2 separate regions of the Homo sapiens genome follow, and region 2 is linked to region 1. The links come from fine-mapping of genetic effects on gene expression. Tissue or cell type: whole blood. Region 1 holds a variant in brackets; the other region holds the start of a gene. All regions are shown on one strand. Distances are from middle to middle.

Evidence for each region. PIP is the estimated chance that this variant, and not a neighbour inherited with it, causes the effect.
Region 2: CDC42EP3 starts here. The variant in region 1 is fine-mapped to the expression of CDC42EP3 in whole blood (TOPMed, PIP above 0.99).

The regions. Positions count from the first base shown.
Region 1 is chr2:37,765,212-37,773,319 of GRCh38, reverse strand. The region is part of intron 2 of LOC107985869 (a long non-coding RNA gene); the gene reads right to left. Among named protein-coding and RNA genes, the nearest start is that of CDC42EP3, 98 kb to the right of the region's middle. The variant T/A (reference allele first, on the strand shown) is at 5,041.
Region 2 is chr2:37,666,997-37,675,104 of GRCh38, reverse strand. It overlaps CDC42EP3 (CDC42 effector protein 3), which reads left to right and starts at 3,463. Exons shown (of 2, transcript NM_006449.5): 1 at 3,463-3,679. RefSeq lists silencers at 2,485-2,654, 2,875-2,944, 2,955-3,014, 3,185-3,674.

The DNA.
Region 1 (8,108 bases):
ATTTCCAAGTCCCAAGATCTAGAATTTCTTATTTCTTAAAAAAATCCTTGAAAAAAAGGCCTCCTTTCTTCAGTGATTCTAAGATACTTTATGATGGCATGGTCTCAAAGCAATACTGAGAAAAAAGCCAAGTCACCTGGGCCACTGCCTGCATCATTTCACACACTTCTAGAACATGGTTTTCCCACCAGTGTCTCATGTGTTTGCAGGTGTCATCTCCACCCCAAGCTGGGGGTGTAGGGTCAGGCAGAAGCAGTACAGGCAGAGGGGAATGAAGCAGAAGGTCCAGAGTCTGTATCATCATACAGGGGTGAGCTAGGCCAGTACTTCCCACCTGTGTCCCTCCAGCAGTGGGATGCCAATCTCTACTCTAAGTGCAGATCGTTCTGAGTCACATAAGCCTGGGAAGGACTGCCCACTATATCCCCAGCTCCTACGCTGGTTCTCACTACCATGAGTTTAGAAAGTGCTAGACTAGTTGATCTCCAAGATCTTTCCTAATGCTTGAAATTCTAGGAGGCAATGAATAGAGAATATGAATGCAAAAAAAAATCTATAAGGCATTTGCCTAAGGCAGGGGTTTTCTACCCTGGCTGTGTATAATAATCACCTGGGGAGATATATAAAAAATAAAAGCCCATAGGCCTATGTTCTCAGCCTGAGGATTAGGATTCATCAGGTCTGGGGTGGACCCCAGCCTCTGCATTTCTAGCAACCCTCCAGTCAGTTTTGATGAACAGCAGGCGTCAGAGCTGAGAAGTTGGGGCTGGGGTTATAACCAGACACTTTCCCAGGCAGTGAGATGAGGGAAGAGCTGACGCAGGATTCTAACATGCCCACTTCTGTTCATGGAGTTTGGCCCACGGGTGATTGTGCCTAGCACATCTTTAGAAGATACTTCCCCAGAAGTCGACAATTAAAGATGCAGTGAAACAGAATTTGTTTTGTTTTATTTTAAACCTCAGACTGACACTTAAACCACATCCCAAGGGCAAACATCTTACAGCTTAATGGATAGGTAGCCACCAGCCTTAGCCATTGCTTGGAATCAGATGGAAAGCAGTGCTGGCTGCCCACCCTAGGAGCACTGGGGACCTGAGAGGAGAAGGGCCCCTGTAAGTGGTGGCCTTCTCAGTGTCCTCTGGCTGCAAGCAGAGCTGACCCAGCCTTCTGTTCAGAAGGTCTCAGCTTCAGGACAGAGAGGCTGGCCTGGGTGGTGGGGTAGGACAGAGAGAGCAGGAGTTCAGGAAGTGGATCAGACCAGCTGCCCAGGCCAACGAGGTTTGTTCTCATAAACCAGGCTGAGTTCCTGGGTGGGGAGGACACTGTGGCCCCTGTTTCATGGGTCCTCACATGCACACACACTGGAGAGCAGTTCAGCAGCCTGACTGCTGGGCAAGTGCTGCCTGTTGCCTGGGGTTGTCTGCTCCTGCTCAGGAGGATGAGCCAAAAGAGATGAATCTTACAGATGACTGGAGTTTAGGGTGAAGTGCAAGCCCAGAAAATAGGTCTCATTCCTGCTACTCCCTCTCGTATATTCTACAATTCAGACAAACTGCATGAGTCATTGCTGTTTAGAAAAATCCTCTGCTTCTCCTCTTTTGTGCATTTGCTCCTGTTTTTCCTTCCCTACCCCATCTGCTGGACTCCTACACATACTCCCAAGCCTACGTCAAATGTCTCCTCTGCTCAGCTCCCCATAGGGTGCAGTGATATCTCTCCCCTTGGGAACTGCCAGAGTATACTGCATGTATCTATCATCTGGCATCTCTCTTACACAGCTGTGTTTCTTATCCCCTTCTATTGCAAGCACTCGGAAGGCAGAGACTGGGTCTTTGTCTCCCTTTGGCCCCAGCCTGTTTCCATATTGTGCTTTTTATGTATTATAGCAGGCACCCATGAATGTCTACGGAATGGAAGTTAATTCTGGGCTGACAGTAATTGTAAAGCATCACAGCCCTTGCTAGCTGTCATGGGGAGGCAATCCTGGGCACTGTCTCCATCACTGCTGTCACCATGTAGCATGATGAGTCCTTTCTCATGCTGCTAATAAAGACATACCTGAGACTAGGTAATTTATAAAGGAAAGAGGTTTAACAGACTTACAGTTCCACGTGGCTGGGGAGGCCTCACAATCATGGTGGAAGGTGAAGGAGGAGCAAAGGCACATCTTACAAGACAGCAGGCAACAGAGCATGTGGAGGGAACTGCCCCTTATAAAACCATCAGATCTCATGAGACTTATTCACTTTCACGAGAATAGCATGGGAAAAGCCCGCCCCCATGATTCAATTACTTGCTACCAGGTCAATTCAAGATGATATTTGGGTGGGGACACAGCCAAACCATATCACATGGCATCAGCAGATGGCTAGACTTCCTGAGCAGAGCCAGGGACTTGCCTGGAAGGTCCAGACCCCTCTGAGTTCCAGCTTCCTTGTGGAGTTGAAAGACACTCCAGTGTGTGTTACACTTGGTATCCTACTCAAGAAATAGTGAAAAAAGGACATTTACACCACTGGGAATAAAACTTGGGTGTAAACATGGTTCACACTTTACAGCTGATGGGTCAATTATCTGATTAATATGATTGATCATTTATCATAATGTAACACATTATGTCACATACCTTTTTTTTTTTTTTTTTTTTTGAGATGAAGTCTCGCTCTTGTCACCCAGGCTGGAGTGCAATGGCATGATCTTGGCTCACTGCAACCTCCACCTCCCGGGTTCAAGTGATTCTCCTGCCTTAGCCTCCCGAGTAGCTGGGATTACAGGCCTCTGCCACGACGCCCGGCTTGTTTTTGTATTTTTAGTAGAGATGGGGTTTCTCCATGTTGGCCAGGAGGGTTTCAAACTCCTGACCTCAGGTGATCTGCCCATCTCGGCCTCCCAAAGTGCTGGGATTACAGATGTGAGCCACCGCACCTGGCCTCACATACCTTTCTTAAGCAGAGTTTTTAATGTTTATAAATCTTACCTCCTTAAGAACAATTAAGTTTCCTGAGAACAAAATCGGTCACTACAGTGGTAGAAAGGATATGGGTTTTGGAGTCAGACAGAGCTAGATTTGAAGCTCGGTTTTATCATTTCATGGCCAGGTGCTGCCATGATTATTTTTTATGTGTCTACTTGCCTGGGTCACATGGTGCCCAAATATTTTGTCAAACATTATACTGGATGTTTATGTGAGGATATTTTTGGATGATATTTAACATTTGAATCAGTAGACTGAGGAAAGCAGATTGCCCACCATATGTAGGTGGACCCCATCCAATCAGATGAAGGTCCAAATAGAGCAAAAAGGCTGACCCTCCTCTAAACATGATAGAAACTATTCTGCCTGATGACCTTTGAACTAGAAGGAAAAATTAGTTGTTTGCTGCCTTTGGACTTGAAGTGTACCTGTACCTCAAGCCTGCCCGCCTTCATACTGTAACTACACCATTGGCTCTCCTGGGTCTCCAGCTTGTCAACTCACCCTACAAATCTTGGGCTTTGCCAGCCTCCATAATTGTGTGAGCCAATTCCTTCTAATCTCTCTCTCTCCCAGTAGTTCCTTTTCTCTGGAGAACACTGACTAATATAGGCACTTCTGTATTAAGAGCATTCTGAACAGCATTATGTTGCTAGGGCCCTGCAATGGGAGGCACCTTCTCACTTTCATCACCTGGAACCTGCTCATCCGCATGACACAGAGGAGGTATATGTGACATTTGTTCACCTGCTGACCCCTTTGTCACAGTGTCCCCTTTTCCGTGGGTACTTCTGTCCACATCCTCTCCTAGAGTGTTTGCCTCAGAAGTGCTTGAGAGGATTAGCATCCAGCAAAAAGTAGGCTCTGCAATTAAGGCTCAAATTAAGAAAAACAAATGAGTTTACACTGGCCTTGGGTATTTCCAGTAGCTGGAAAATCCCACTGTTGGAAACCTACTGAAGTCATCTCAATACAGTATTTTATAGATCCTGCAGCAGCAGGAGATGAATTAACCCGAGAAGACCATAGTGGCGGGGCAGAAAGAAAGCCTGTCAATGACCAGATCTTTTAAAAACAAAATGGCTGTTTCTGTTTTGGTGTATGTGTGGTTGTCTTTATTTTGGATGCTAAGGCGCGTTTCTTTCCCCCCCCACCCCGCCGAGAGTTTCAAGAAAAGAGAGCCCCATCTTCAATTCACTATCCAGGCAAACAACAGTGAGCATGGCTCCTCTTCCAAGATCCCACTCCAAAAAGTGACACCAGGTTTTTGACACAGACAGCCTGTGGGCACACTGTAAAGAAGTGGACTTTGTTTTGACAGGGGCCTGTGGAAGCGGACTTTTAGTGCTCAATCCCTTAAACACATAGTGTTATGAATATGGCTTTGACGATTGTTAGCAAAAGTGGATTTGTCACACAGCCATGAAACCAGCAGCTGTGTCTTTGCCACAGAGTTTGACCCCATCCTGCATATAGACAGGCATCGTGTGTAATTACTCAGCATTTGCCACACAACACAATAAACTCGGGGTCTGCCCACTGGGGACATTTATGTGTCACAGTGGACTGGATTAGGACCGAAAAAGAATAGTTGTGGTGTACGCTCCATCCCAACTGCTCATTCCCTCTCCTTGACCTACCCTTTGTGGGAAGCCAGGAATGCTAAATATTTCTTGTAGCTCTGCCCAGTCCTCTACTTTATTTACACTCCCCCCAACTCCCCAGCCTTAGCCCTGTCTCCTCCTGTGGCAAGCTCAGGCTTTCTTCCCTGAGCTGTTGAACAACTACATTTTTTGTCTGAGATGATACATCAAAGGTATTTCAAATAAAGAAAGACAAAAACATAAAATGATGTCTGCTGGACAGCCAGCCGTGCTCTGGCAAGGATAATATGCAATCTTACTTAATGGACTTCCTGATATTGACAAACTGTACCAAAGTTTCTAGGCCAGAGATAAAACAACTTTTTTCAAAAAGTGAAATAAGATAGAGGCAGTTGAAGGAACAGGAGGTGGAAGATTGATGGGGAACATTTTTAAAGAACCCACGGGCCACTCTGTATG[T/A]TTGTTTCCTGAAGGGCAAAATTAAGCCCTTAGAGCAGATCTTTCATTTTTTGGTTTCTTTTCTAATTCTAGAATCTCCTCTAACCACAATGGGCAAGACAAGTGGGAATGTGACTTCCCCTAGAGTTATTGCTACACATTTGTGAGGACATTTTCTTCAACAAGTTTGTTTTTCCCCAAAATACATTTCCAGGCAGTATAACCCTAGAGGTGGAGCCTCAGGGAAGCTACACATGCTTCAAGTGTGCAGTAATTGCAAATTGCTAAACAGAAAAATACAGGTATGGCCATGTGTCCAAGTCTTTGTGGGGCATGCTCCACTCATGCCTGTTGACCTGGCATGATTATTAATAGTTCTCTCTTTCAAAAATGTCCAGTTTGGATAATAAATTCTATGAACACCCTGACTTTCACCAAATGTACCATTTCTGAGGTCCATTTCAAACATGGTGTACAAATAACTGGTTCTACAGCCGGTCTGGTGGTCAGCCTGGCCCTGCTGAGGGGAGGGATGACATCTGAATGCACAGCCAGGTGGCACGGTGGTCTCAGAGGCTACAGTGCTGCTAGCCCCTTGGGGTAGGTCCTGAGCTTGGCACCCCGCTGCTGACTGCATGTTGCAAATGAGATTTTTGTTTTAAAGCCCTAGACTTGAAAAATCAGACACTTGGCTTTTGAACAGAAGGCAAAGCAGATATCTGGGTCTCTTCTTCCCCACCTCAAGTCCTCATTGTCATGGAGACTCCTTAACATCTGTGAGTGGATATGACCCCACCAGCTGAGGCAGGCTTCTCTTAGCCCCATTTTCCCTCCATGATGGGTGGAACATCCTTAGGTAGAAAGAAAAACACCCAACATACTTTTATTAGCAAGTGTCAAAAATGTATCAGAGAGTTTTCTCTGATGTCCATGCTTATCCAATCAAGCTATTTGCAATTCCATGTGAGTGTGGGGTTGGAGGTAGGAGGTAGATTTTGGAGACTGGGGAAGAGGAGCAGAGAAGGGGTTGATTTGTGGTGTATCCTCAAGGCATGCACTAAATATTTGACCAATGAGTATGTGAATAATTGCATCTGTGGAGGAGATTTTTGTCCAGTCAATAAATTTTAGCATATTAGAGTTTTGCTTATCTTTAACAAAAATTCATAGTAACATATGCACTCATTTCCAGACATTTTTTCCTAAAAATACTACATTTGGGTGTGTTTCATTTTACTCCTTAGGCAAAGCTGATTTATAATTCTGACAGTGCACCTACAAAATGAATATGAAAAATGCCCTGTTTGATTTGTGTTTTTTATTTTAACTGGGATTAATTTTAAATGAGTTGAGAAGAGACCTGTGATGTTGCAAAATGCCTCTTTAACTTCCAAGTTAACCATGATATTGATGGACACAAGATAGATGCAAGGTCTATAATTAAAACTTGTCTGCCAAGTCCCACTCTGTTGAATTTGGGGCGATGTTGCATGGAAGCGATGGTTTTGGTTAAACTCTAGGTCTAAAAGAAAAATAAAATAATAACTTAATTGTCAAACCTATCCACATCTATTTGCATATGCCATATGATTTCTAAATAGGGTAAGACACAGGAGCATTGAGGAAATAAAAAACCTGTTGGTTTTTAATGCGGGTGTATCTTTCTTCCCTGTTTTGTGCCTGGGCTAATGGGCCGATGGTTAAACAGTGGAATATTTAGAATTGGAGAACTTATCAATGGACTTAAAAAATATCTCTGAATCTTGTAATCTACTTTGAAGAGATCCTCTGAACAGAGGGCATGAGCTAATTCAAACAAGGAATGACCTCAATGAGAAGAACTGAAATAAAACTCAAATAGTGAATATACACACTCACATGCTGGTGAGCTAAACAAACTGAAACTCAAGTTTTAGGCAGTTTACAATCAGAGTATATTTGTTTGATAAACAGTGTTTGGACAGAAGCTTTTCATATCTTTTTTGCTAGATACTTCATCATCTATTATCTCCTCTTTTCAAAGAATGCCTCCATGCCATTGCTGTGGAATTCAAGACACAGCTCTGTTTACAGAGTGAGCTGGTGCTGACGGCCTGCCTCCCGTCAACTCCTCCCCTTCCTTTCACTAATTAACATTCTTGACATTTGACTTGACAGTCGTATTTTAGAGGGTTCAGACACAATTCTTGTAAACAAAAATAATATTCTTGCTGTGAATTCTTACTCTTTTAGAAGAAAGAAACTGGTGCTGGTGCTGTTTCCAAACTAAAACAAATGCAGTTGATTTTGTCAGTTACGAGTTTTCTAAGATTTTTGTTGTTTTCTTTCTATTTGCTTCAGAATGCACCAGAGAACTTCTCTGTCATGAACTTGGTCTGCTCTTTTAAAAGATAGCTCTTTTATAAAACAATCAGAATGTATTAGAGGTTTTTAAAAATGTGTTATAGAGTGTTTTGATACACGGTGTGGCGTGGATGTCATTTAGTCCTGGAACCAAAATGGATGTGAAGAATACTATAACTGATAAAAAGGAGAGTACTCCTCATCTAAGGAAACTATTTCAACCTAGACCAAATGGGCTTTCCTTTGATGAATCACAAATACCAGGCTTAAATCACTTCCAATACAGATTATGTATCTGTCACATTTTGCTAACTTGGAGATGTAAACTACTGTTCTGATTCCTAAATTATTCCTCTGGTCAAAGTAAATAACAATCTTTAAATTAAACTGAAAATATATTAATAATTACTTTAGAAGTATAAAATGTATACAAGCTGCTTGTATAGAATACAGAATTGCTTTGGTCCTTGACAGACCAAACATTATCAAAATATTAATAACAGCAGTGATAGTATATTGCTGACATTATACATTTACATCAGCAAATTTCTTTCCCAGAATATCCTGAAACTCTAAAACTATGAATCGAAGTCAGCTTATACTTAATAGCAATTTTTATTTACTATGTGCATTAGTTACTGGCTATCTTTTAACTGTTCCCCCTTTCTTTAACAAAGAATGATAGGTTTTCCATTTCAAAAGTAAGATAGATCAAAGTGGGACTTTTTATTTATACAATTAAGTAC
Region 2 (8,108 bases), 98 kb after region 1:
GTCGGGAGTGCCTGGAACAGCCTGAAGGCCAATGTGGCTGGGGCAGAGTGAGAGGTGAGCAAAGTAGTAGGAAATGAGATCTTATGTGAAACCCCCATGTCATAGGGTTCTTGCACACCCAAAGTGGAATGACTACTGAGTCCACAGTCTGGCTTCATTTTCTGGACGTTCAAGTGATGATAAGGAATTGCAAGGAAAGCCTGCTGTCAAACAACAATCTCCTCATTAAGTTTCACATGAACACATACAAAAAAGGACATTCTCTTTTTCCCTCTCAGGACCTTTGCATTTCAACAGCTTGAAATGCTCTTCTTTACTCCTCTTCCTATCAAATTCCCCAGGTTTAATTTAAGCTCTGCCCCCTGTGAGAATCTTCTCTTAACTCCTCCAGCTGACACTGAGTCAATCTTCTTTGTGACTAGGGGGTCTTAACCTAGGACTTCCCTGGCATCAATAGATTATTTACAGGAACTCTGAAACTGCATATGAAAAATTTTGTGTATCAATCAATATGCTTTTCCAAGGGTGCTCATAAATCCCATGAGATTTTCAAATGAGTTTGTAGCTTTGAAAGGTGGAGAACCACCAAGCACTCATGGACGGTGCTTCTCAAACATTAAATCTGCACGCAAACTATCCACATTTCATTAGACTGAAGATTCCAACTTGGTAGCCCTGGAGTGAGGCTTGGTGCTGCTGGTCCTGGGACCATACTTGGTAGCAAGAGACTAGAATGTGGTCAGCATTTGCTTGTGTACACTGGCAAGGTGCTCTCTGCACTTAGGTAGATCACAGGTTTCTGGACAGCAAGGGCACTGACAATACTACTTGGCTTTTCTCCCAAGTAGGGACTAATAGAAAAACAGCCCACTGTTGGGCCTGACAGGTGGTCTACAGATACCAGGCTTCTAAGGTTACCACCAAATGTTTTTAAGGCTAAACCTTTCCAAAATTCACAGCAGAATCTCAAAACTCCTAAAATCTTCCTGAAGCAAAGCTTTTTCCTCTCTTCCGGTAGTAGACTCCCATAACATGTTGAAACCTAAATCCATCAACTCTACAAGCTATCATAGTTAGCACAGGAAATGCACTCATTTGGAAGAATAATTCACTATATGAGGGATCAGTTACTCACTGAAGATGTTCAGTACAAAGAAATAACGTGAGGCACAGGGCATGGTGGCTCATGCCTGTAATCCCAGCACTTTCGGAGGCTGAGGCAGAAGGATCACTTGAGGCCAGGAGTTTGAGACCCTGGGGGAAAAAAAAAAAAAAGGAAAGGAAGGGAAGGGGAGGGGAGGGAAGCGGAGGGGTGGGGAGGGGAGGGCAGGGGAGGGGTGGGGAGGCGAGGCCAAAGGAGCCAAGATAAATCAAACCACCAGGCCCTTGAATGAGCAGGTCCTGGATAACTGTTTAGAGTCCAGCAGTGAAGTCTCATTTAAAAACGGCAGAGGGAGAGAAAGCCTCTAAAAGGCAAGGGATAATGTAGAAAAGTAAAAATAGGTTTTAGAATAAAAATGCCGTTTCAGACAAACTGCCACTCTATATTTGCAAAAACTGTAAAAGAAGTTATTTATTTGGCCATGTAGAAATAAAGTGCTTTTAACAGCAGCTAACAATAGATCACGTGAAAAAAATTACATACAAGACATGTGTGTCGGGAATGTCTTTATGTGTTCAAAAGGAATTTTGCATGTGGTATTTTATATATATACACATATTATTTGGACTTATAAAATACCCTATGTAATGAAAACTATGCATAAATATTTATAAAAATACCTTTTTCTAAGTAGGCCAGGAACATTTAATATTTTTCAATAAATTAATATATAAAATATATACATTAGTGCCAAATGGAACATATATTTTGAAATATGAAACCCAAGTAAAATGCTCAGGAATCTGGAGTAGAATCCAGGTATCTGCCAAAGGAAACTTTGGACGAGTTGTCTTTTGAAGAAGGGAAACAATGCTGGGTCTCTTATCTTCACGGACTGTTTTTGCTTGTCAAACTTCTAACATCACTTCAGCCGAGTTTCGTATTTGACTTCCAACCTCATGGCCATTTGACCTGCCAACTACTATTTTTCTTTGAGGCTTTTAACACCCCACCCAAGTATTTTGCTTTCCAGATTGTGTGCGTTTCCTTTTCACTTCACCTTAAAGTCAGCCTGGGTTTACAACATCGGCTTAAGGCGCACCCTCTAAGGTTTCAGACAGACCCAGGGCACCGCGGTGATGACCTGAAGCTGATATCTCTCGGCAAAGCCAAGGTATCCGGGAGGTTCTCCGCGTTGTGCCAGGATTTCCATCCAACCCGAGAGTCTCAGGGCAGAGGCCAGGCCCCCAGCGTCCGACTCCCAGGGGTCCCAGCCCCCTCCCCTGGCTGACCATGCGGGCTGGGACCTCCCAGCCGGAAAACACCGCCCTTTCCTGTCGCCTACTCCTTCCCCAGGCCGACGACTCGCGGAGGAGGAAGAGACGGAGGCCGATTAAGAAAATTAGCATTCATTAACCCGGTTCACGCTCCGGCCCCGGCGGAGGGGAGGGGCGCGCCGGGCGGCGGCGCTGGCGGTGGCCGGGTGACCGGCGGGCGCAGGTGCCACCGCGGCCTGAATTTTACTCTCTCGGGCCGGCAGCTGCGCCACTTGCGCCTCGTCGCGCGTCTGGGGCAGCCGCCACCGGCTTGCCCCAGCTTTAGGCAAATCCTTTTGAAAGACCCTGAGGGAGAAGAAACGCCTCCCTCTGGGTAGGAGAACCTGTAGCGTCTGCTGTTCGTCGCGTGTCCAGTTGCTCAGCCGGGAGCTCCGGCATCTTCAGGGCGCTTATTCCACTCTCCGGGTTTTGGCTGCAGCTCTGAGGGGAGCGAGCTAGAAACTGACAGAACGCGACCCTCCCCCTCCGCGCCCACCGGAGCCCGGGCTGAGAGGGACCTGGGGAGCTGCGGCCTGGCCGGGGCGGCGCACTCAGGTGGCCTCGCTTCCCTGCGGGTCACCGCCCGCCACTCGCACAGCTAGGTCGGCCTGTTGGGATCGGGAGAGGTGGGCGCACGAGTTTTAGTGCGGGAGTCCGGGGTGCGGGCGGAGTCCTATTGTCCCCGTGCACCCGGGCGGCAGCACCTCCGGGTCCCTCTTTAAACCGAGCGTCCGGCGACCTTTCTTTGTGCTTAGGGAGTCGAAAGCGGCATCTTCTCCGAGAGAAGTCGCCTACTGGGGGGTGGCGCTGGGGAGGTAACAATGGGCGCCCATTGTCCTCCGAGGGTCCAACGGTGACCCCCCCCCGCGCGCGCGCCCGGCCACCGGTTGGCCCCGGGCCAGGGCACAGGTACCGCGGCTGGGAGGGTCGGCCCCGCTGCCCGCGCCCTCCGCCCCGCCCCAGTGAGTCCCCGCGCCGCCGGCCCCGCCCCGCGCCGCCCCGCCCTCCGCAGGTTCAGTCCTCGCGTCCGGCCGCCCCGCGCTCAGTCGCGCGCACCTTCTCTCGCGGCCGGGGGACCGCAGCGCGGGGCTAGCCCGGAGACCCGGCCACCGGCCTGGGGCGCCTTCACGCCGTCTCGGAGCGGATAATGCGGTGAGCAGGCACCACGCCGGCAGACTCGGCTGGATCTGCGCACAGCGGCAGGGATTGCGTGCGCCCGCGGGAGGCCCGGGGCAGCGGCTGGGATCCTCAGCGGCGGCCGGTGAGTCGGGGCAGCCCAGGGCTCCTTCCTCTCTACCTGTCTGTGAGTCTGTCCCGCCCGCGGCCGTGGCCGCTTCCGGCGTGCGCTGGTGTTAGGCTGGGAAACCAGCAGGGAGTCGGGATACCCAGGGCATCGCTTTCCCATCTAGTGTCCAACGGAACGAAGGGGACATAAAGCAAGCCAGGAGGGGGTCCGGCGGCACGACCAGGACTCAGAGCTCCACCATTTGTGCCCACTACTTTTCAGGGTGGGGCTGCGCGGCCACATTGCACCCTCCGAGCTATTGGCAGAGCCATTCTGGGCGCGTATAGCATTTTTCCATCTGAGAACAAGCCGCGCTTGGCTACCGCGCCCCTCGCATCATGGATTGGTACCAGGGCCGCACATGGGTGCATCGCACAGCTCTGCCGTGGCATCGCCTGCCCGGTGCCCTCCTCTTTCTTAATGGAGGACATTGTTAGTGGGGCGCCAACCTGCAGATCTGGATATTGACTTTTTTGTTTTTTGACGGTGAACAGCTGAGACGTTTACAAGGTTTTTTGTTTTTTGTTTTCTTCCCTTTCTCCTTGAAACTAAGTGGCTTGACACAGACAAGTATCAGACATGTGAGGATGAATGGATCTGGCCATTTTTTCGTTATGAATTATTATACTCTATCCCTCTCTCGACTTTGGGAGGCATGTGTTTCATCTTATAAATAGAAAGTAGCATATTTTTGGGCAGGATCTCCTTTATACTGTGCAGTCTAGGAGAGGTCAGTTTAAAAATAAATATGCACTTGAATGTTACATTACTGAGAGCCAGGCTGTGGCTGGGACAAGCTGCGTGGACAGCAGCATCAAAGCCGGGAGCGCAGCTGTGTTGAAAGGAGTAAAAGCCCCAGAGTGCAGCCTAGGCTGACAGTCAAGTAATTACATTTTGTTTAAAAAAAAAAAAAAAAAAAGTGAGCGAATTAAAATGAGGAATGTCAGGAGGGTATTGCAACATGAATCTTTCCAGCCCTGGCGTATTTGGAGGAGTGGGCTGCTGCTGTGTGCTGAGGTTGTAGGGGGGCTCTAGGGAGGGAACTGATGAATGTGTTAGGGAGACAAAGATTCCATCCCCATCTCCCAGCTCTTAATTCTCACAATATCCAAGAGTTTCTTGGGAGTACTGCCTTTTAAAAGGAACAAAAATTAGGAGAGCAGCAGATGTCTGTATTTTAATAGCAAAGCCAGTTTTAGGGACTTCCTGTTAACATCACAGGGAGAAAAAAGACTCACCAGGAACCAGCGATGATGCCCCAAAGGTATCCCTAAGACAATTTAAAAGGCTCCTGTAATGTTCTAATTTACACAAGCTCTTTCATCTTAAAACCAGGAAATGTACCTTCTCTTCTTTTCTGGACAGTTCCAGAAGTCTACTCTTTCATACCCCCTGCAATTTGTGTGAGCTCTTATTGGTAGTTAATAAGCTACACAGGTATGTGTGTGATGCATACCCTTTTCAGAATAGATTTAGACACTCAGAAATAAGTTGGAGTAGTTGTGAAATATTTAGCATTTTCATATGTGAAATAAATGATAAAGGCCCTTTCTATAGTCAAGGAATGGTTGAAATTCTTCATAAAGTCTCCCAAAGAATGCGGGTTTCCCAATGGGCCTCACCCATTTGAATAAAACAGCACCAGCCTCTGGGCTCACAGATAAGAACTTTAGAGGAGAAATTTGGAAGCATTTCTGGATCCATGGCAGTTTCTGTTTTCCAATGGCATCATCTGCTAGAGATTTACATGATGAATTCTATGATTAGAACATGGTGCTGAGGCTGTGGCAGCAGCTACAGGCTTGAAATGAGATGAGCTCCTCTTTCCCTCAATCTGAGCAGTGAAATTGTTTCACGTATCTCTATGGAACAAGTAAAAGCAGCTAGAGTAATAAGTGTTGCACACTTTTTGCTTTTTATTGCACATTTAAGTGCGGTGCAAGATGAATAAATACAAAGCCGTAACAGTGATTGCAGAAGGGCTCACATGAGTTCATTTGCCCTGTCTGCGCTCCAGCCTTTCCTTTAATGTGGTGTTTTGTTTTATGTCCAACATGCTCACAAAAGCTGTGCTTTTTTCATGTATAAAGTTCCTGGTATTCAACAGTGTTGGGGATAAAATTGCTTTCACCTGTATCACCCAAAGATTTTTTTTTTTTTTTTTTTTTAGCCAGGCCATAGATTTTTCACAAATTCTTTGACCATTAACTGTAACATTTATCCAGTGGGTGGAATATAATTCGTAACCTAAAAACCTCCAAGAAGACTGCTCTGATCGTATTATTATTATTATTATTGTTATTCAGATTCTTGCTTTCAGTCAGATTTTATCTAGGCCCAGTCTCATTTCTTACTAACCAGAATCCTGTGAACCTGTATTTCTTTTCATTGATTGAATGAGAAATCTATTTTTAAATGCAGTATGTTTGCCAGAGAACAAGGATAGCCATTTGAAAATACTGGATTCAGCCAGCCACAAAATCTTGTGTGCCTCACCAAGCCATAGAAGACCAAGAATTTTCCTAATATATTGCATTGTTCATTACTTTGGATGTTAAAAGCACTTCCTAAGTGGAGCCCGTCCTATGTGTCAAGCACTCTTCTCAGCCTTTTGTCTTGATTATCTTACTTGTTTCTAGCAATCATCTAATGAAAGAACCGTTGTATCCCCATTTTGCTGGTGTAGAGACTGAGGATAGACCAGTTATATAACTTACCCAAAGTTGTGCAGTAAGCAAAACCTAAACATGCGTGTGCAGTTTAACAACACAATATGTGCAGGCATGAGTGGCTAATCCTATGTGAAAGTCAGCAGCTCTTTGGGTTAAGGGGATGGGAAAAAAAACTGAACTTCTGAAGCCTCCGAGTCAGGCTGCCTGGGCACATGTCCTAGTTCTGGCACTTAACACCTGTGTGACTTTGGGCAAGTTACCTCACCTTTACCTCAGTTTATCCTTTGTAAAATGGAGATAATATTATTTCCCTGAGGATTAAAGGAGTTAAAAAAGATTATGTACTCAGAACAGTGCCTGGCCCAGAGTAGCCACAATAAAAGGTTGAGGTTTTCAATGTTGCTTTTGTTTTTTTCCTAGGTACTTAATACTGGTTCTGTCATGTAATATTCATAACTATTCTTTGAGAGAGATAGTACAGTGGTCCCCAATTACCCGTGGTTTTCTTTTCCAGGGTTTCAGTTACCCATAGTCAACCATGGTCTGAAAATAGGTGAATATGGGGCATTTTAAGAAAGAAAGAGACCATATTCATGTAATTTTTATTACATTGTTATAATTATTCTATTGTTAATCTCTTACTGTGCCTACTTTACAAATTAAACTTTATAACAGGTATGTATGTATAAAAAACAACATAGTATATATGGGGTTCAGTACTGTCCAAGGTTCAGGCACCCACTGGGGGTCTTGGAACATATCCGTGGAGGATAAGGCAGACTATTATATTGCTCTTCTTTTCCAGATGAGAACACAGGCTCAGAAAGGTTTAGTAACGTGGCCAAGGTCACACAGCTAAATAGCAGAAGCAGGGTTTGAACTCAGGTCTTTTTGACCTTATACTAAATACCACACCCCCACCAATGGGGAGGAGGGGCAGAGAAGTTGTTAAATCTGATTTTTGTTATGACTTTTGGCCTCTGGCAAGGAAATAATTTCATATCACCCTGTATCTCACAGTTGAAGATGACAGTAATTGCCAGCCTTGAGGAACACTATGTAAATTATTTTATTATTAAAGATGATTCAATCCCACATATGTGGCATGAAAGTGGATCTAGCATGAACACTGCTAGGGTTAACATAAGCAGTTTAATTTATGCCATAAACGAAGAGATTTACTAGGTGAAAATGTGGGACTATATGGTGAGAAAGCAAGCCAAGCCACAGCCAGGGACAAGGACTTCTGGTGGCTGGGGATGAAGTGAAGCTCTAGCATAGACTGTGTGCTCGCTTCAAAATTCTGGGGAGCCCGGGGTTGCAGAGTCCAGTAACCACCTGTGGACAATCCCCTCCTTGAAGGCAGGAACCACACTACCTGGGCCTTCAGTCCCGGCACTCAGTGGACGTTTTAGTCCATGTTTGTTGATGATGTTGCTGCAAGAACTCAGCAGAAGAGGAGCTACAGGTAAAGTGAACAGAAAGGCACTGGGCTGTGTCCATGGCAGAAGTCAAGCCCTGTTACAGTTCAGCATATCCCCTGGGCCCTGCTAGATAAGAAACACACAACAAGGAAACCTTTGAAACCTTGTCCTTACTGCTTGCCCCGGAAAACCCACAGGGCCTGCCTTGGCCTCCACTGCTTTGATGCTCTGGGTTTGTGATTAGCTGTGGGGATCAGCTCCAGAGACTTCTCAGATGGAAACAGGGTTCTGGAAAGGACAGTCCGAAGT